Regions from separate parts of the Homo sapiens genome. Here all the other regions are reported to be linked to region 3. The links are microRNA targets in miRTarBase. Many come from high-throughput screens and were not tested one by one. Region 3 holds a microRNA gene; each other region holds the end of a gene's coding sequence.

Region 1 (7,096 bases), not on the chromosome of region 3:
GCTGCCCAAGCTGGACAGAGGATGGGCCAGGGCACAAGTGACGGCTGACCCACTGATCCATGGAACCCCCAAGAAAGGCTCTAGAACAAAGCTCTGATTTCACAGTGAGATTAAAATTCTGCCCAAATCAGGGTACATGGGTGGAATTAATCAAAAAAGTTAGTATGTATGCCTTTCACCCCAGCAATTCTACTTCTCATTTTGCAGAGACTCACTCATACAGTGGCATCAAGAGGTTATATGTGCAGGAGAACGTCCACTGCAGCTTTGCCAGTAGCGATGAAAACTGCTAACAGCCTAAGGGCCTAGCCAAAGTGGAATGCTCAAAAAAGATGGTTTGCTCTAGAACAGGCAGCTGGTAAAAGGAGTGGTGTTAGATCAGCACATGTTCACATCAGAAATGCTCCAGGAGCCAGGTGCGGTGGCTCACGCCTGTAAACCCAACTCTTTGAGAGGCTGAGGAAGGATTGCTTGAGCCCAGGAGTTTGAGACCAGCCTGGGCAACATAGTGATTCCCCTCTTTACAAAAAATAAAAAGTTAGGTAGGTGTCATGGTCCAGCTACTCAGGAGGCTGAGGTGAAAGGACTGCTTGAGCCCAGGAGTTAGAGGTTGCAGTGAGCTGTGTTTGCAGGAGTTAGAGGTTGCAGTGAGCTGTGTTTGCAGGAGTTAGAGGTTGCAGTGAGCTGTGTTTGCAGGAGTTAGAGGTTGCAGTGAGCTGTGTTTGCAGGAGTTAGAGGTTGCAGTGAGCTGTGTTTGTGCCACTGCACTGCAGCCTGAGCAACCAAGCGGGACTCTGTCTCCAAAACAAACAAACAAACAATCCTCCAGAGCAATCTGTTAAATTACATTTTGGAATAACCTATTCAAAATGGTTTTTTCCATACGTCTTTAAGATGATAATATTTATATGTTCAAAAATTTAAAGTCTGGAAGACTATGTACAAACAGAAAATGGTAGCATTACCTTTAGGAGCTATTGAGAGGAAGTACAAATAGAGCCACTTGCCTTCTTACTATCAATTCTGATTGTCCCATGTTTTATAATATATTCATGTAGTACTCTAAACAAAATCTTTTCAGATCAAATCAGGGGAGATGAAATGAGAGTGGATTCTGAGCCTAGTTTTTTTCAGGGAACAAGACCCAGTGCTACCACTTAGGGGCTAGAAACAGAAATTGTATTTATTTTATTTTGTTTTATTTATTTTATTTTTGAGATGGAGTCTCACTCTGTTGCCCAGGCTGGAGTGTACTAGCATGATCTTGGTTCACTGCAACCTCTGCCTCCTGGGTTCAAGCAATTCTCCTGCCTCAGCCTCCCAAGTAGCTGCAACTACAGGCATGCGCCACGACGCCCAGCTAATTTTTGTATTTTTAGTAGATGGGGTTTCGCCACGTTGGCCAGGCTGGTCTGGAACTCCTGACCTCAGCTTATCTGCCCACCTCAGCCTCCCAAAGTGCTGGGATTACAAGCATGAGCCACCGGGCCCGGCCTCTTTATTTTCTTTCAGTGTTTTCCCAGGAAGTTCTCTGAACATCCAGGGTCTTCACAGATGGACTTCTCATAAAAGGTAACTCCTGGAACCAGACATAAATTTTTTTTTTGGGGTGTGTGGTGATGGGATACATAGCTGTCGCCAGATTCTCAAAGGGACAGTGTCACACTTAACAGAGCAAGGAGAGTAATCGGTGATTGGTGAATGATCATTTATCAGAGACTGTGTGTCAAACATTTAAAAAATAAAAAGTAACTGCTGAAGAAATGAACAAAAAGGGTCACACCTTCAAAAAAGCCTAATTTCCATTCCAGAGCAATCTCAAGACAAGGAAAAATAAGAGCTGCTTCACACTGAGGGCTTATCTGGTATCAAGGACCACCGCCAATGTCATCCATTAGCCATCCCCAATAAACCCATGAAGTTCAGCCTGAACAGCATAGAAAGACCTCGTCTCTACAGAAAAAAAAAAATTTAAAAAGTAGCCAGGTGTGGTGGCACATGCCCAGCTACTCAGGAGGCTAAGATGGGAGGATCACCTGACCCTAGGAGACCGAGGCTGCAGTGAGCTATGATCACGCCACTGTACTCTAGCCTGAGTGACAGAGCGAGATTCTGTCTAAACACACACATACACACATACACACCATGAAGTTTTAACTTCCCCATTTTACAGATGAAGAGACAAAGTCTCAAGCCATACAGCCAGTAGGTCAGCCTGACTCCAAAAACCCATGCCCCAAGCCACAATAAGTCACTGCCTTCCAAAAGCCTCATATTATCATGAGATATAAGGCAAGGAGGTATGGGTAAAACACCTTAACCCTTAAAGATACAAACTTATTGTAGGCCCAGTTGGTCCCTCAGCATTTGGGGACTGTGCTATAAGGGTTAACTCAGCAGGCTTGAAGTGTCCAAACCCAGCACATCTCAAAGAAAAAACTGGCCTTAATGGGCTCCTGGGAGATAACCTCTAAGTCCTTGGAATATCCTCCCAAGTAGGGGTGTCTTTGTATACCTCAGGCCTTGGGCCATACCAGGCCAGATAGTTTGTGCTAATAATGTGATTTATGGTGGGGACCTTGGGCCATGCTGTATCATTTTGACCTCTGGAGCAGCTGGTGATTAAGTAACTAAAGTCGGTCATGTGATTGCCCTATGTGACTGACATGCAATAAAAACCTAGACCCCAAGGCTAGGGTGAGCTTTCTGGCTGGTAATATTTAGTACGTGTTGTCACATATCATTGCTGGGAAAATTAAGTGTGTCTGTAAGACTCTACCAGGAGATGACAACTGGAAGCTTGAGGCCGGTCTCTCCCGGACTCTGCCCTATGCACCTTTTTCTTTTGTTGATTTTATTTTGAGATGGAGTCTTGCTCTGTCACCCAGGCTGGAGTATAATGGCACGATCTCCGCTCACTGCAACCTCCGCCTCCCAGGTTCAAGCCTCCTGAGTAGCTGGGATTACAGGTGCACACCACCACGCCCAGGTAATTTTTGTATTTTTAGTAGAGACGGGGTTTCACCATGTTGGCCAGGCTGGTCTCGAACTCCTGACCTCAGGCGATCTGCCTGCCTTGGCCTCCCAAAGTGCTGGGATTACAGGCGTGAGCCACTCCACCCGGCCTCTTTTGCTGATTTTAATGTTTATCCTTTTGCTGTAATAAACCATAACCATAAGGATAATAGCTCTTCTGAATTCTGAGTTCTTCTAGCCAATCATCGATCCTGGGGGTGGCCCTGGGGACCCTGACACAGGAATTCAGCTGTGCCTTACATGCACCTATATTCTCCAGCTTTTTGCTCATCACAAATCTACCTGACAAAATCCAGTATGGAAAGAAAAAAAAAACCCTATTCATTCAGTAAAGTAAGGCACAAACAAATGAGCCTCTGTTCACTTTATTCAAAGAGTATTTTTTTCCTCTGTGAAACTAGGTAGAACTGAGGAGGAATCAAAGAAAGCCTCATATATTAAACTCTTAAATAGATTCTTTGAATTCAAAGTAAGGGTCAATAGGAGAGGCACAGGTTGTGGGCCTTGTCCCAGCAAACAAAGCCACCAAGGCAGTCCTGCAAATTAAGGAGGATGGCAAATCTGTCTCTTAAAAAAAAGTTCTTGAGGGGAAAAATATAAAATACCTAAGTTTCAAAAGCCGGACTACTTCCATACCCTTCATTCTCTACCCTGGAGTGTCCAGAGATAGAGAGTTTCAAGGTACGTTTTCAATGATTCAGCTTTTGCAAACATATGCAAATACATTCCTCATCAGCAGTCCTGTTTTGGCGATTAATAGCAAGCAATATGCTTGGATTAGAGGTCCGATTTCCACTTAAATGCATTTTCTTCTCTTCTTGGCAATGAAGTCATTTGCGGAGATCTGAAAGTGGGGAAGACTGTGTTAGGCTCAGAGTAACAATTCTGAAATAGATCATTTATATTTATACATGTGATTGCAGAACATACTGTCTTCATCCATTCGCATAAGCATGTAATGTTTTAAGAATGCATCCCAGATGGCCAGAGAGAGTTTAAATTTAAAAACGTTTCCTGGGTTCTTCCCCACATCTCATCTTGCATCCACTTGACCTCAAATATACACTTTTCTTATGGACACAGAGCAAATGACAGTGATTATGTGATAAATACTGATGAATTCTTGGAGGCAAGAGAAGGACTCATGTTTGTTCAAGGCCAACTCTGTACCCAGGATTCAGCTAAAGCACCTCTATATGGTATCTCATTTAAACAGTAAAACAAGTAACAAATCTGCTTTTGTCAATGAGAAGGTCCAGGATTCTACTAATGATCTGCAGAAAGGCAGCGAGGGAACAGTTAGTGAGGAACAGGGAGGAAAGCTGTTTTTCATGAGAGGGTTCTTTTCTTTGGAATAGAACTATGGGATCTTGGGTAGGTGTGGTGGCTCATGCCTGTAATCCCAGCACTTTGGGAGGCTGAGGTGGGCAGATCACTTGAGGCCAGGAGTTTGAGACCAGCCTGGCCAACATGGTGAAACCCCGTCTCTACTAAAAATACAAAAATTAGCTGGGTGTGGTAGCGCACACTTGTAACCCCAGCTACTTGGAAGGCTGAGGCACGAGAGTCACTTGAACCCCAGAAGGTGGAGATTGCTGTGAGCTGAGATCGTGCCACTGCACTCCAGCCTGGGGAACAGGGTGAGACTCTGTCTCAAAAACAAAAACTCTGGGATCTTAGTGCAACTCAAGATGGGAACCCTAATAATGACAGAGTCCTTGCAGGTTGGAGCAAAGTAAATTGAAAGAAAAACTAAAACATATGCTGATTGTTTAAAAATAGATACAGAGACTAAAAATAAGAGTCCAAGCTGGAAGGTGTTTCCATGTAAAATAACCTCTCTTGAGGTTTCCTTTAACCTGATCATAGAGGCTGGGGGACAGAAGGAAGTGAGCTCACTCATGCAGCCTTAACTCCAGTGCCCAAGTCCACAGCGAGGGCCCAGCACTTCACGGTTTCCAAGCACTCCCACCTGGGCCAGCTCACGCCATCTCATGGCCAACCTCAGAGGTGGGCAATGATGAATCCCCATTCTCCAGATGAAGAAAACAGGGGCTGAAGGGAGTTAAACCTGGAGATCTTAAATCTTTGAATTACCAAGTTCAAAAAAATCCCTTTCCCCACCCCTTAGTAGAATATGGATGGATAAATGTGCACTTAAAATCATTCACTAAAAGCAAACCTGGGAGGAATTCTGTCCCTTGGTGGCTGTGTAGCCTTGGGCAAGTCAAAGCCCTTCCTTCTCTGTGCTTTGGTTTTCTCTTCTGTAAAATGGAATGATCATGTCATCCGCCTCCCAAGGATGCTGAGGGTTAAATGAGTAACACAGGACCAGTACCTGGCCCAACGGCCATGGGGGTTATTCTTAGAACAGAACGACTTGTGACTGTTATTAGAACATTAATTGCTCTGGCCCAACGCTGATGCTGTTTTTAGAAGCCAGACTGGCAGACAGCATTCTGTGCAAAAATGGTTCCAGAATCTCCCCCTCCCCCATCATAGTGGTGCTTCCTGCCCTGTCCCCAGTGTCAGACAAACCTTTTTCTGGTTGGTTCAGCGTTAATCCCTCTCCCTGTCCTTGATCCAGAGCTAGAAAACTAAGCCTTGATTCTATAAATAGCACCCCCAGTCTGTCACCATGGAAACCTCTGATGGGGCTGGGTCAGCCCACCCTAGTGGACATGTCTACCCCAGGGAGGCTCTGGAAGGACAGAAAAGTGGCTTTTCAGAAAAGTGGCTCCGGGGCCACCCAGAAGCAGCGGGAACCCCCAGTGAAGTCCACAGGCTTACCTGGAAATCACGAGCTTCCTAAGTGGGAGGAGGTGCTGTTCTGGTTCACCTGGAGAAAGACAATACACAGAAGAAGGGGTCACGGCCAGGTGAGGGATGCCTTGCTGTATTGAGGGTCACCCCTCAGCATCACTGAGTCATGCACATGCTTATTCACGTAGTATTTACTGTACATCTACTATGTGCCAGGTGCTGGGATAGCGTGGTGAGCGGGACAGACCCAAACCTAGGATCACGGAACTTACGTTCGAGTTGAAGAAAAAGCCTACTGAACACGCACAGATGCAAGAAAATGTCAAACTTGGGCAATATGACAGGCTGCTATGAGTGATCAGTATCTGTGCTACTTCAAAAACGGTGGCCAGGAAAGGACTCTACAAGATGGCATTTCAGCTGTGGTATAATAATAAATATTTGTTCATTGTCCCCAGTTCCTGGCACATAGCTCCCCAAACTCTTGGAATCTCTGAAGGAATAAGGGTATCTTGGCCGGGCGCCATGGCTCATGGCTGTAATCCCAGCGCTTTGGGAGGCCGAGGAGGGTGGATCACCTGAGGTCAGGAGTTTGAGACCAGCCTGGCCAACATGGCAAAACTCTGTCTCTACTAAAATACAAAAATTAGCCGGGTGTGGTGGCGGGCACCTGTAATCCTAGCTACTCAGGAGGCTGAGGCAGGAGAATCGCTTGAACCCGGGAGGCAGAGGTTGCAGTGAGCCAAGATCATGCCACTGCACTCCAGCCTGGGTGACAGAGGGAGACTAGGTATCAAAAAAACAAAAACAAAAACAAAAAAAAAACAAAACGTATCTTTTGCATGCTAATGACATGACTAATGGCTGGGGGTCCCTAGATAGCTTCAGGATTAGGGGAAGGGGTCTCAGAAAGACCAAGGCATGATTAGAGGGTTGGAACTTTTTTTGTTGTTTGAGACGGAGTCTCACTGTGTTGCCCAGGCTGGATGGAGTGCGGTGGTGCAATCTTGGTTCACTGCAACCTCCGCGTCCTGAGCTCAAGCAATTCTCCTGCCTCAGCCTTCCAAGTAGCTGGGACTACAGACGTGTGCCACCACGAATGGCTAATATTTTTTGTATTTTTAGTAGAGACAGGGTTTCACCATGTTGGCCCGGCTGGTTTTGAACTGCTGACCTCAAGTGATCTGCCTGCCTCAGCCTCCCAAAGTGCTAGGATTACAGGCATGAGCCACCACACCCAGCCAGAAGGTTGGAACTTTAAGCCCCACCTGCCTTCTCCCCTCCCTGACCTCCTGGG
Region 2 (7,096 bases), not on the chromosome of region 3:
AATAATATTCTGAAGATTCACATCTGGAGGTGTGAAGCAGATAGACAGAGTTAGAAAACACAATCCAGGTTTTCAGCGTCACCAGAGGGATGTCACCTCCAATGGAGTAGTACCTGCCTGCTACCTAGAGGTTTTTGGGGCCCAGTTCAGATCCGACACAGCAGTGTTCCTGTCAGTACTGGTGAAAGATGAAGGATGGAGGCACTGGGGATGTGGAAGCCGTGGATGCCAGCTGTCCTGCTCGACCACTTTCTCTGGAGGCAGGAGCACGCCCTCAATATTCCATGCACACAAGGATCACCACTGGCCACGCCACTGCTCACGTGCAAAGTCTTTGAAGAAATTACATTTTTTAAATTAATTTTTGTTTTTGTTCGTTTGTTTCCCCCACAGGAGGGGAAAGGAGGAGAGGGAAAGAGAAGAGAAACAGAAGTTGAACATTTCTTTCCACTCACTTCCAAGCCCTGAGGAGCTCCACAACCTAGAACCAGGAAGCGCCTACAGAATCCGTGATATTTCTGCTACGAGGTGGAGTGGAACAAGAAAATAAGAAAATTGTGGCCAAAGACAGAAATAGGAATCATGATTTCTCCATAGGGGAAGGATTCCGTTGTAGTTTTTCCTAGGCTGAGTGAAAAGCAGGAGTAGAGAGTTGGTGCTTGGGTCACTACATTTATTCATAGATTTACTCTTTCAGTATTTTATTACGTGCATGCTGGTAAGTATGTTACAAATATGACCTCATACAAAGGTAAAACTTTCATACCAGCCGTATGAAGTAGGGATTATCCACTGCATTTTACGCAGCAGCAAGCCCAGGTTTAGAAAGGTTTCCGAAGTTCTCTGCTGTAGACACTGGGTAATTAACAGTAGATAAGACACAGTCCCTGTTCTCAAGGGAGTCACCATCTGGTAGAGGGAAGACAGATGTATCAACACATTAAATGCTGTAAGTATTGGACAGAGGAAAAAGAGAAAAGTGTTGTGAGGGAAAAGGAAAATGGGCCTAGAGGAGTGCAATTTTTTGTAACAAGCTTTGTGGAACTATTAATTTGATAATTTGATAGGCGCTTCTATTATGCTGCCTCTGAACCTTTGCCTCCTGCTCCTCTAACCACTGGGATTGCCAGCCTATTTCCAATATGCCCTCTTTCTGCCTGGCAAACATCTTGTCTTTTCTAAACTCAGCCCAGGGACATGACATCTGTAATGTGTTTCTGTGTGACTCCCAGGCTTCTGCCTTCTTAACCTCTCACCTTCCAGCTCATTTGAGTGAATCTTTGTCCAAGAATTGAGAGAAACTTTATAGGTAAAGCATGCACATGTTGTCTGATTTAATCTAAAATAGAAATAAGAAAACAAAAAATAATACTGCAACTAGGGACACATTTAGTCACTCCCAGTTCATGAGACAAGGAATAGTAAAGTTCATTCCTACCATAGCAAAAGTCAGGATTTAAATGTAAATTAATTTTTTTAATTAAAAAATTTTAAATTAGGCCAGGCGTGGTGGCTCACACCTGTAATCCCAGCACTTTGGGAGGCTGAAGTGGGCAGATCACGAGGTCAGGAGTTCGAGACCATCCTGGCCAACATGGTGAAACCCCATCTCTACTAAAAATACAAAAATTAGCTGGATGTTGTGGCGGGCACCTGTAATCCCAGCTACTCGGGAGGCTGAGGCAGAAGAATCGTTGGAACCCAGGTGGCGGAGGTTGCAGTGAGCCAAGACCATGCTATTGCACTCCAGCCTGGGCAACAAGAGCGAAACTCTGTCTCAAAAAAAAATTTTTTTTAATTAATTTTAACTAAATTAAATTTTTTAGAGGCAGACTCTCAGTCTGTTGTCCAGGCTGGAATGCAGTGGCGCAGTCATAGCTCACTGCAACCTCAAATTCCTGGGCTGAAGCAATCCTCCCACCTCAGCCTCCCAAGTAGCTAGGACTACAGGTATGCCACCATGTCTGGCTAATTTTTAAAGAAATTTTTTTGTAGAGATGGGATCTCACTGTGTTGCCCAGGCTGGTCTCGAACTCCTGGCTTCAAGTAATCCTCCTGCCTTGTCCTTCCAAAGCACTGGGATTCTAAGTGTGAGCCACCACACCTGGCCTGGAGTATCTAATATTGTATAACATAATAATAGTAATCATAGGTGATGTCATTTATTGAGTACTTAGTATGTGCTGAGTGCTCTGCTAAGTCTGGTTTAGACATTATCTCAGTTAACCTTCCTGGTGTCCCCCAAGATGGATATTGTTACCTCCATTTTCTCCTAGGAAGAAACGGACTTGGGGGGGATGATTAGGTATTTGCTAGATGTCTATTCTGTACCATCCCTGCACTAGGCCCTGTGAATACAGAGATAAATAAAGACACAGTCCCTGACCTTATGGGGCTCACAATCTGGAAAAAAGAGAAGGATGTGTAAACCAATAAATGCATTAATGCTCCGATAGAAAGCTGCGTGGAATCTGAGAAAAACCAAGGCAGATGAAGCCAGTGTGCCAGCAGCCCTTTGGGACAGAAGATATTTCACTGAGGGGCACAGGCACAGGGGTTGGTTTGCCAAAGGACCAGCAGCTGGGCTGAAGGGCATAGGTTTTATCATTTGAGCTTCAAGGCACAAGGCAGTGACCTGGTCTGTGCTAGAACAGTTCACCTGTCACAGCCAAGAGGAAAGAAATGGTGCAGATGGCTGTTTGCCCAAACCAAGCAGCAGATAAGCAGATCTTGGGAAATGTAGCTCATCCCTCAGACACACATCTTTACTTGAATCCTGAGTAGAACTCTAGGTGACCCCCTTGGAGGCTATTACTCATGTAAAAGGGGATGAAGGAAAGGTAAGAGAGAAGGAGCTTAGGCTTTGGCATGAGAAAATTTGGGCCTTTGAATCCCTGCCCTGCTTCACCATATGGATGTGTGACTCAGCATAGTAGCTGTGCATCTTGACCTTTCTGAACGTGCTTTCTTGACTGCAGAAAGGGAATGCCTGCCTAGGAGGGTTGTTGTGAGGATTAGATGAGATAATTTGTGCAAAGTTCTTGGCACAGTACTTTTCACTTTGTAATTGCCACAAGCTGTTATTGTTGTTATTGCTGTTATAAAGTGTACTCTTCTTGGCCGGGTGCAGTGGCTCATGCCTGTAATCCCAGCACTTTGGGAGGCCAAGGCAGGTGGATCGCCTGAGGTCAGGAGTTTGAGACCAGCCTGGCCAACGTGGCGAAACTCCATCTCTACTAAAAATACAAAAAAATTAGCCGGGCACAATGGCAGGTGCCTGTAACCTCAGCTACTCAGGAGGCTGAGGCAGGAGAATCACTTGAACCCGGGAGGTGGAGGATGCAGTGAGCTGAGATTGCACCATTGCACTCCAGCCTGGGTAACAAGAGTGAAACTCCATCTCAAAAAAAAAAAAAAAAAAGTATAGTCTTCTGAAACCAGAACGTGTGAGCACCTGCCGAGTACAAGGCACCATGTGGGGCAGATAAGCAGAACACTCTCTCACCTTCCCTTTACTACCCCAGCCACTGTCAACTCTTCATTTGCAGTTTCTCTAGGAACCACACTTTCCTATTTCTGGATCTTTTGTCTGTTGCTGCTTCTGGACCTGAAAATGCCTTCTCCTCCCTCCTCTTTGTTAACTGCCAACATCACTAATTCCTGCTCTTCCTCCAGGACCCCGCTTAGACGTCCCTCATCTTGGGAGCCTTCCCTAATATACCAGGAGCAAGGTAGGCACAAGTGCTCCACTGCATTATGCTCCAACAGCATTCTGTGCCATCCCATTATGGCAGCAGTTACCATAGTAGATTGGAATTGCCTGTCTACCTATCCACCGCTACTATTAGCCCCCATACAGCAAGAAGGTCTCCTTATTTTCTAAGCCCAGGACAAACTGCATTTCTGTCTGTCAGGACCATTTGTTGCACAGTCCAAGATCATCCCTGCATGGACCCTTTCCAGAAATGACTGAGGACTCAGAGTTGTAGCCTCTCAGGATGTTAAATATGAAGAAACCTGTCTCTGCCCTTTGTAAACATTAGAAGGGAAAATTATGGGGAAGAATTATTTGCCCTTTATAAGGGAAGCGGGGTAGAGCATCAAAGGGAACTAACATTTAAAAAGCATTTGCTGTAATGTGGGATAAAGCAAATGAGTAATTGTATGATATTCTAATTCTGTCATTCCCAGTGTTGCTGAAAACCCATACTCTCAGCATGGAAGAAGATAAATTCAGATGTTAAACTAGAAGAGATGAAGTTAAAATCCTATAGTCCTGATTTTGAATTGCTTATGAATTGATGATGAAATGTATGTTTTAGAACATACAGTTTCCTGAAGAACAGGAGGGATAGCTGGAGAGGGGATAGGAGGGAAGCTGGAAGGGGTTACAAAGAGGCCCAAATAAACTTTTGGGGGTGACAGATATGTCTACTATCTTGATTGTGGTGAATGGCTCATGGGTGTATACACACCTAAATACACTTTAAATGTGTGCAGTTTCTCATATGTCAATTATACTTCGATAAAGCTTTGTTAAAAAACGAACAGGCCAGGCATGGTGGCTCACACCTGTAATCCCAGCACTTTGGAAGGCCAAGGCAAGAGGATTGCTTGAGGCCAGGAGTTTGAGACCAAACAGGACAACATAGTGAGACCTTGCCTCTACAAAAACATAAAAAATTAGTCCGATGTGGTAGTGCATACCTATAGTCCTAGCTACTAGGGAGGCTGAGGTGGGAGGATCGCTTGAGCCTGGGAGCTTAAGGCTGCCATGAGCTGTGATTGTGCTACTAGACTCAGCCTGGATGATAGAGCAAGACTGTGTCTGGGAAAAAAAAAAAAAAAAACCTGAGCCAGGTGCGGTGGCTAACGCCTGTAATCTCAGCACTTTGGGAGGCCGAGGCGGGTGGATTGCCTGAGACCAGTAGTTTGAGACCAGCCTGACCAACATGGCGAAATCCTGTCTCTACTCAAAATGCAAAATTAGCCGGGTGTGGTGGCAGCTGCCTGTAGTCCCGGGTACTCGCAAGGCTGAGGCAGGAGAATTGCTTGAACCCAGGAAGCGGAGGTTACAGTGAGCCAAGATCATGCCACTGCACTCCAGCCTGGACAACACAGTGAGACTCTGTCTCAAAAATATGTGTATATATTTCCTAAAACTCTGTCCACTGAAATGACCTAGAAATAAAGACTGACCCGGCAGCAGTGACCCAGACTGTGGTCTTGAAATACTATTTGCCCTAAAAGGATCTAGGGATCCTTGAAGAAATGATCAGTTCCAGGTCTAGGGCAGGAAAATCATGAGACCTGAAACATCTTATCACACTTAACACCAAGGAAGCTATCAAAGACAAGGATCCTGTCAGAAAGACTTGGGAGCAAACTTAGAGACAATCCCATTAGCTAAAAGAGAGGACCATTTGGGCATTAATAATAATTGCCATATTTGAAGCACGTCAAACGTGTTCTCACCTGTAAGTTCATATTGTGACTTTTAAAAAACGGATTGGTGTCTGGACGCGGTGGCTCACGCCTGTAATCCCAGCACTTTGGGAGGCCGAGGTGGGCAGATCACCTGAGGTCAGGAGTTTGAGACCAGCCTGGCCAACAAGGCAAAATCCCGTCTCTACTAAAAATACAAAAATCAGCCAGGCGTGGTGGTGCATGCCTGGAATCCTAGCTATTCGGGAGGCCGAGACACAAGAATCACTTGAACTTGGGAGGCGGAGGTTACAGTGAGCTGAGATCGCACCACTGCACTCCAGCCTAGGTGATGGAGTGAGACTGTCTCAAAGATAAAAAAGGAAAGGGGAAAGGAGGAAACTAATTGGATACTAGGAAACTTCCTCATTATTTTGAAAATTGGTAAGTAAATGAATAAGCATTTATCATGCCATTCCCATATGAACTGTATTACCAGGTAACCAAATAGTAGTGGAACAGAAACTTGTCTTTAGAAACAATCCACCTAATAAATTCAGAAATAATGATAGACTTAAAATATCACCATTTTGAAACCCCTAATGAATTAATGGATCTAGGTTGATTATCCATGGCTGCTTACATCACAAAAGACAAACAGCTATTAAATGCCTTTTGATACTAGACCATAAGACCACCTATCAAATAGTCTTACAAATAAGTAAACTTGAATGTGATCTGAACTCTAGATCCAACCACCATAACAGGAAATACAGAGGATGGGGACATCATGGCAAATGGTAAATGACACCTAGGGGATGCAATCAGCAAAATCCAGGCCATGGAAAACTCCAGGGCAAATGACTTCATTTTTTTCAACAAATAAGTTTCAAGGGAAAAAGAGAGGGGGAATATATAGATTAAAAGAGACTTAAAAGAGGACATCGGTTGCCGAGCATGGTGGCCCATGCCTGTAATCCCAGCACTTTAGGAGGCCAAGGTGGAAGAACCCCTAGAGCCCAGGAGGTGAGACCAAACCGGGTAACATAGTGAGACCTTGTCTCTACAAAAAAAGTAAAAATTAGCAGAGCAAGGTGGCATACGCCTGTAGTCCTAGCTACTTGGGAGGCTGACGTGGGAGAATTGCTTAAGCCTGGGAGTTGGAGGGTGCAGTGAGCTATGATCATGCCACTGCACACTCCAGCCTAGGTGACAGAATGAGACCACATCTCTAAAAAGAAAAAAAAAAGACATCAATCAATTACAACATGTGGACATTATTTGGATCCCATTGAAACAAAATGTGGCATTTATGAGACAAATGGATATCTGAATCTTAAATATTTTATATATAAAATTATTCTAGGCGTGATAATAGCATTATGGTTATATTTTTTAAAGAGTTATCACATTTTAGAGATATATACTGAAATATTCACAGATGGAATTACAAGATTTATGGAATTTGTACTCAAATAATATGGGAGAGAGAAAGTGGATGGAGGTATAGGTGAAACAAGATTGACCATGTGTTGAAAATTGTTGAAGATGGGTGATGGGAATATTATACTGTTTTACTTTTGTGCATATTTGATTTTAGCCATAATTTTTAAAATTAAAGGCATCTACCATGGACACTTCTAAGCATATTTTACACACTTTCATTGTGGTC
Region 3 (7,105 bases):
GGGCATGGTGGTGCATACTTGTTATCCCAGCTATTCGAGAGGCTGAGGCAGAAGAATCGCTTGAGGCCGGGAGGCACAGTTTGCAGTGAGCCAAGATTGTGCCACTGCACTCCAGCCTAGGCAACAAAGCAAGACTCCAACTCAAAAAAAAAAAAAAGGTAAGGGTAAGCTATAAGCTATGGCCAAGAGGCTGGTAAGAGACAGCCGGAACCAGTAGGGAGAGCATGAAGAAGGAACACAGCCTTTGATGGGTGAGAGGGTTTTGGCCTGAACAGGTAGGCAGAGAAGATACCATTTCTTGGGATGGGCAAGAAAGATGTTTGGAGAGGAAATCAAAAGCTGAGCCTCAGATAGGTCTGTATGTGATTCTGGATAGTTCGAGGTATGGGTTTGTATCAGGTGAAGGAAGAGACAGATTCTTTGTCTAGGCTGGGAATAAAAATTGAGGAATGGCTGTTGTAAGTCAAAAGAATGACTGAAAACATGGAGGGAAAAGGAACCCTCAGGAGTGAGCCTGGGGCCTTTCTTTTACCATTTACAGATCAAGAGAAGTGAGGAGGACCTTACAAAGGAGCCCAGGGAGTTGGTGGCCCAAGAGGCAGAGGAGGGTTAGGTCAGAAGGAGGGAGGGACCAGTGACCATTGGGTTAGCCAGAGTCTCTGGAAACTTCAAGTGGAATTGCAAATTGGGCTGGTGGGGAGGGACAACCAACTAATGGGGTGTCAAGAAGTGTAGGATAATCTCATTCCTGTGTCCTTGATACCCTTGTCTACTCTGCAGGATGCTGTTCGCATCATGGCAAAAGACTTGGTGCGCACCCGGCGCTATGTGCGCAAGTTTGTATTGATGCGGGCCAACATCCAGGCTGTGTCCCTCAAGATCCAGACACTCAAGTCCAACAACTCGATGGCACAAGCCATGAAGGGTGTCACCAAGGCCATGGGCACCATGAACAGACAGGTGCGCTTTTCCCAATCCCCCTTCCCACTCCCACGACCCATGGGGATCACACTCACACTCCTGTCACTTCCAGCTGAAGTTGCCCCAGATCCAGAAGATCATGATGGAGTTTGAGCGGCAGGCAGAGATCATGGATATGAAGGAGGAGATGATGAATGATGCCATTGATGATGCCATGGGTGATGAGGAAGATGAAGAGGAGAGGTATGGGGAAACTGGATGGGAGGGTGGAGATGTTTGCCTGGCCCTCACGGAGTGCATAGCCCTCACTGAGTTCTCTCTCTTCCCTAGTGATGCTGTGGTGTCCCAGGTTCTGGATGAGCTGGGACTTAGCCTAACAGATGAGCTGTCGAGTGAGTGCTCCAAATCCTGGACCCCATTTCCCACCCAAGGCCCAGCCACAGCTCCAAGCCCTCCCTTTCCCTGCATTACTCCCCTCCGCTGCCTGACCCCACCTGCTCAAACCCCCACTTTCTCTGCAGACCTCCCCTCAACTGGGGGCTCGCTTAGTGTGGCTGCTGGTGGGAAAAAAGCAGAGGCCGCAGCCTCAGCCCTAGCTGATGCTGATGCAGACCTGGAGGAACGGCTTAAGAACCTGCGGAGGGACTGAGTGCCCCTGCCACTCCGAGATAACCAGTGGATGCCCAGGATCTTTTACCACAACCCCTCTGTAATAAAAGAGATTTGACACTAGTCTCCAGGCCCATGTGACTTTTGGCCTGATGTGGGACCAGACTGGGGTCCCTGGGAGGATGGGCATCACTAAGGCAAGAGGCACTTGGTACTAAGCTAAGGGTGGGGGTTTGGGGCAGGGGTGAACAAGCAAAGTCCACCTGGGATTTTCAGGAGCTGGGAGCTTCAGGTGAGCTGTGGGCCCTTCTCCATCACCTCTCCCAAGATACTGGACTGCCCAAACACCCTGGTAGGATCTTGAGAGTCCAGGCCTCATCTGCCAGGCTGTAGTGTCCAACACTGTTTGGTCCAGTGATGGTTTAATGACAACACTCAAGGACAGTCCAGACCAACCAATAGAGGCAAGGGGGTGGCCTTGGGATTCACACAGGCTCGACTGTAGAGTAACTAAATCATAACACAGAGATGAATGATAATGTTAAGTGGACTCAGCAAAGGGAGACAGGGAAAAAAACCACATCTGGAAGGTCTCAGTTCACTGTGGGACCTTCTGAAGATGAGAAACAGCTACAGCACCAAAATTTAGGAAGCATTCAGTAGAGTGGCTGTGCTACACCTGGGGCTAACCCTGCCTACACAGGGATGTAGGTCACACCTACCCAGTATCCCACAGGGTACCCAACAAGCCTCTAGTGTGTACATCCTTTGCCCTGGGTGACCCTCCCCATACCCAGAAAGGGCAAGGAGGCAGTCTTCCCCACTCCCTAGGCATCCATACACATGGGCTTCGATAGGTGGGGGACAAGACCCCCCTCCCTTGTGCCACCAGTGCTTGATAAGGCTGACTAGTAGATACAGTCAATAAACCAGGCCCCAGGACCACAGTCCCCCAACCAGCCAACGCCTGAGGAACTGGTGAAGTTTTTATTAAATCCACAGAAGTAAAAACCATATCGTGAGGAACTGGGGGATGGGGCCACCAGGGAGTGGGAGTCAGGCCACCAGGGGAGTGGGGATGGGGTGACAGGACAGAGAACAGAGCCAGGCTGGGCTGGCCATGGGGGCTCCAGCCTCAGGGGCCATCACCAGGGCCACCAGACAGCTCCTGGGAACTCAGGCCAGCACCAGGCAGGCTCATCGGCGGGGGCTCCACCAGCACAGCAGAGAACTTGGTGTCACCGAAGGCCTCGTTCATGCGCGTCTCGAAGAAGCGCTGCAGGCCGATGATGGACTGCACGTCTGCCTTGTCCTGGGCCAAGCAGGAATGCAGTGGATGAATGGGTCCTAGTTCTTTCCTTCACATCTCCCCCTGCCCACAGCCTCTCCATTCCACTGGCTCACCTCAGTTAACTTGTTGAATTGCTTGAACATGCGGCCCACATCCTGGGCAAACTCCTGTGGGGAGCTGTAGGGAGGTGACAACTTCTCCTGGAGGCGGGCACGGATCAGGGTCAGATCCAGGGTGCCACCGGGCTGGTCCTGCAGGCAGAGATCACACATACACACACAAAGACACACATATACATGCACAGGTTGAGGGCGAGACCCAGCAGCCACCACCCCCTTCCCCTTTCCCATCCTAGGACTCACCAGGGAGAAGGTGGAGTCGGTAGCCAGCTGATGCAGGGGGCGGCAGGGTTCGTGACAGAATAGGGCCAGCAGTACACGCTCACATTTCTACAAACATTGTAAGGGATGTCACAGCTCTGGGCAGCACCTATAAAGCCTCTCTGGGCAACCCCACCTAAGTAACCCCAGCCCTCACCCGCTGGTTGGCTGGTGAGAGCTTGGCCACCACGCCAGTGCTGTCTGCACCATCCAGGCTGAGGCTGCCATCCTCCTCCTTCAGGTCAGGGAGCACATGGCAGAGTGAGCAGCTCCACTCCTCCCTAGGGTGAAGAAAATAAGGGTCTGCACATGATCCTGTCCAGACAGCCCAACACCCAGACTTGACCCCCACCAGCCTCACACTCACCCTGGTACATCCTGCAGGGCCGGCAGGTGACAGTCCAGGTGGAAACAAAACTCACACTGGTTGCACATAACCAGATCGCCTGGCTTCTGGCAGACACGGCAAATGGTGGCACTGTCATCCAGGGTTCCCGGGCCACCACCTGGGGCTGAGGTACCCTCAGGAGCCACCACCTCCAGCCCTGAGCTGGTGCTGCCACTAGGTGAGGCCAGGCGGGGACCCTCAGCACCAGGACCCTCCGCAAGAGCCATAAGCACAGGTTTGGTCTCAGGGCCCTCAGTGGCAGTAGGAGGGGCTCCAATGGCAGCCTCCGTCTCCTCCTCCTGCAAGGTGGTGATGAGGGGTGTTCAACAGGGTCCAGACCTGGACTACAGGCTTCATCCTACAGCTATAGTTCCTTGGGACAGGCTTACCTTGACAATGGCCATGCCAGCCAGGGGTGGGGCACCAGGGGTTCCTGCAGGCGCAGTCCCTGGCTGGCCGGTAGCTGCAGCGGCAGCGCCACGTTCAATAACAATAAGGTTGTAGTCCTCAGTGGTACTGCCTGGGAAGACCTTGAAGACGGGTGGCTGGCTGTCAGCTGTGAGGTCCAGGTCCAGGCGTTCAAGGCTCACTCGTGGCACCTTGCGCATAAGGCCGCTCACCTCGCCCTCACCTGAGCGGGACCTGTAGATGCAGCAACCTGGCATGAGTACACCCCCACCCTCCATCCACCTCACCCCCAGGGGAGGTGCCATACTTACCGTTTCACACCTGACACATGGGGCTCTGCACTTGAGTAGGGATCATCTCCTTAGAAAATGGAGAAAGAAGACTGGCAGGTTGGGGTAGAAACAGCACTGGGGCCCTTCCCCACCCACTAGGCAGACCCACTCACCTGACCCAAAGCCATAGCCTTCCTGCACCTCCATGGGCTGTGAACAAAGCAGAACCCTCTGCCTCAGTGGGACAGGAACCCTACTGGACCCCATTCCCTGCCCACCCCCCCTGCCTGGGTCCTCTCTCCTGCTACTGGACCCCATTCCCTGCCCACCCCTTCCTGGGTCCTCTCTCCTGCTCACCTGGCTGCTGCCAGAGCCCTGCTTGCTCAGGGGCCCTGGGGCTCTTGGAGGGGCCATGGGTGCAGGGCCTGTTGAGTTAGTGCCAGGACGCTCTGCCACAATCTTGCCTGCAAAAAGAAGAGAGAAACGTAAGTAGGTGCAGCACGTGGGGTAATAACAGAGTGAGGTAAAGCTGGGGACCCACCAAAGGCCTCGGCACTCTTGGTCCAGGCATTGAGGTCCCACTGAAACTTCATCTCGCCATGTGGCTCCACGGGATCCACAATCATCTTGAGGGCCCGGTGCAGCTGGAAGTAGATCTGGTTGGGAGTGAAAGGGAGGAAAGAATGAGCACACCAACAACAAATAGGGATTTGAGGTATTGGGAACCACCTGCCTGGAACCCACCAGCCAGGAGCCCACCAGTACACACCAACTTCTTAGAAAGCAAAAGGGCTGTGTTGTTGTCACTCTCCAGAGCCCAAGAGGCAAAGCGCAGAATGTGCTCCTGGTGCTTCTGGATCTTGGTCATGGTCCAGTGCTGCCGCTCCAGGCGCTCCTGCTGCCCCTCAGTCACCTTCTGCAGATAGAAGGTGTATGAGGTAAGCAGAGAAGGCAGAAGAATACTAGGATCACTCCTCACCCCAGACAGCATCATCAATCAGCAGAGGGGGCTCAGGGACCCTTCTCACCGGCACAAGGCTTACCTGGGCATCATTGACCAGCACACGGCCCCGCTTATTCAGCTCCTTCATGATCTGCAGGATGGCCATCTTGACATCCACTTGCACACGCTTCTGTACGTCAGACACCTGGCGGATTCTAGGGGACACAGCAGGTCAGGCTAGGTAGGGTCTTGCTGCCCTGGGCCACCCCCACAGCCCCAGAACCCACACTTACGAGCTGCGAACCTCCTTGGTGCTCTTCTGCAATGTTGCATGTTTGTCCCCAAGGCGCTTCACCAGTGAGGCCAGGAGCTTGCGCTGGTTCCTCACTGCATCCTCTAAGAACTGGTACCTGAGAGCAGACAGATGTGTTCCTGAGCACTAAGCTACGGAAGGGGTGGCACCCACCCACCCAACCACTATGCCTTGGGACTCACTGGTGGTCCTTGTGGGCATTGAGCTGGCAGTCTCGGCAGGTGAGAGTATCACAGCTCTCACAAAACAGCACAAGGGGTTCATGCTTGTGTACGTTGCAATAGACAGTACGTTCACCATCCCGAGACTTGGCTGGCCCTGGGGAGTGGGAATCATAAGGCTGGACCTTGCCCTTCACCACCCCCAACTCAGGAAGCAGAATGAGTTGGGGCCTCATTTCCGGCCTGTTCTGTGACACTGGGCCATTTATTGGGAAGATGTAGAGGGTGTGGCCAGGGAAGAACACAGGCCTGCAAGCCCAACTCCTTGCTCCCAGAATCCTCTGCCCCAACATAGCTGAGAAACACATCCCTTTCTTCTAGCTTCTAGAGATAACAACAATGTAAGGGTAAGGATAACAGCGTCTAGAAAAAGAGGACCACCCCACCCCACCCCCCACCCCCGCTGACCCTTCCCCACACTGTTCCCTTTACTGAACACTTCTCCAAGTGGACATACTCAGAATTCTGCCTACACACCACCCTGGATTCCTTTTCTTCTCCTTTCATGGTTAACTTCCTCCCTCTTCCCTGACAAGAGAACACCAGGGTCTCTTACAATCCAAGGGCCCAGAGGAAACCTTGTAGAGGTTCTCATACTGGGAGAGATGAAATGTCAAACCAGGACCCTCAGAATGGTGGTCACACCCCCTCTAGAGCAGAATCTTGGTGCTCAGCATAATCCCACCCAAAGACCAACCCATTAATAACCTCCAAAGCCTGTCTCCCCATTAGAAAACTGATCAAACACACTGGTCCCACATACCAACCAAATCCAAAATATGTAGCATCAGGGCTCATTGGGGAAACTGACTTCCCCAATGCCACTCATTCCTGCACCCTGACCTTTGCCTGGGACGTCTGGAATGTAGGACACCCTGCAGCCCCTGCGTATCCCTCCTGGCTGCTCAGGCCCCACAGCCACCACCTTCCCGCTATCTTCCACCAATGCTGTCCTCTGGGATGGGAAGAATCACAGTATGGCTACCAAAAGGCCACTCATGGGAGGATTCTGGCCCCAAAACTTGGCTAGACTCAAAAGACTCTCAAGCTCCTTCCAAACCAAAGCTAGCTGTGTCTGTGAAAAGCTGGAAATGCCAAACCAAACTTTGGGTAAGTCTCTGCCAACTCAAAAGCTAAAACACTTCCAAAAATCATCATCACTTATAATCCATGGACCCACAGTCTACTTTCCCTAGCAGCATCTTATACCAGATGTGTGCCAGGGAACCACAAACCCAGAAAGCCCTTCACACCATGCCTTTCCCTGTTTGCATATGCTGAGCCCTTCACCACCAGGTCTGACAACTCCCTGATAAGCCTTCTCAAACCCTTTGTACCTCCCTGCAGCACATTAAGGTC

What was found. The annotated mature microRNA hsa-miR-6807-5p reads GUGAGCCAGUGGAAUGGAGAGG and lies in region 3 at 2,913-2,934, opposite strand. An mRNA with a match to its seed (bases 2 to 7 or 8) in the 3' UTR can be bound and repressed. Matches are read on the target gene's strand: a 7mer-m8 pairs with bases 2 to 8, a 7mer-A1 pairs with bases 2 to 7 and ends in A, and an 8mer does both.
Region 1: the mRNA of TPST2 is a reported target of hsa-miR-6807-5p. Seed matches in the 3' UTR shown: 7mer-m8 at 3,108-3,114, 7mer-m8 at 1,477-1,483, 7mer-A1 at 591-597 and 7mer-A1 at 472-478.
Region 2: miRTarBase lists FAM227A as a target of hsa-miR-6807-5p. Seed matches in the 3' UTR shown: 7mer-m8 at 1,511-1,517, 7mer-m8 at 3,131-3,137, 7mer-m8 at 4,454-4,460, 7mer-m8 at 4,563-4,569 and 7mer-m8 at 5,527-5,533.

Annotation. Positions count from the first base shown.
Region 1 is chr22:26,522,388-26,529,483 of GRCh38, forward strand. TPST2 (tyrosylprotein sulfotransferase 2) reads right to left here. Exons shown (of 7, transcript NM_003595.5): 6 at 5,827-5,875; 7 at 1-3,880. The coding sequence ends at 5,834. Among named protein-coding and RNA genes, the nearest start is that of TFIP11-DT, 13 kb to the left of the region's middle.
Region 2 is chr22:38,579,497-38,586,592 of GRCh38, reverse strand. It overlaps FAM227A (family with sequence similarity 227 member A), which reads left to right. Exons shown (of 17, transcript NM_001013647.2): 17 at 394-7,096. The coding sequence ends at 468. Among named protein-coding and RNA genes, the nearest start is that of DMC1, 13 kb to the right of the region's middle. RefSeq lists a silencer at 782-982 and an enhancer at 3,527-3,576.
Region 3 is chr19:58,546,114-58,553,218 of GRCh38, reverse strand. MIR6807 (microRNA 6807) reads right to left here and starts at 2,934; the gene lies at 2,843-2,934. TRIM28 (tripartite motif containing 28) reads right to left here. Exons shown (of 17, transcript NM_005762.3): 4 at 5,708-5,843; 5 at 5,506-5,622; 6 at 5,313-5,427; 7 at 5,039-5,185; 8 at 4,811-4,925; 9 at 4,627-4,733; 10 at 4,443-4,479; 11 at 4,309-4,357; 12 at 3,979-4,231; 13 at 3,569-3,888; 14 at 3,359-3,482; 15 at 3,184-3,270; 16 at 2,935-3,072; 17 at 2,504-2,842. The coding sequence ends at 2,666. It overlaps CHMP2A (charged multivesicular body protein 2A), which reads left to right. Exons shown (of 6, transcript NM_014453.4): 3 at 781-960; 4 at 1,034-1,164; 5 at 1,252-1,313; 6 at 1,443-1,653. The coding sequence ends at 1,570.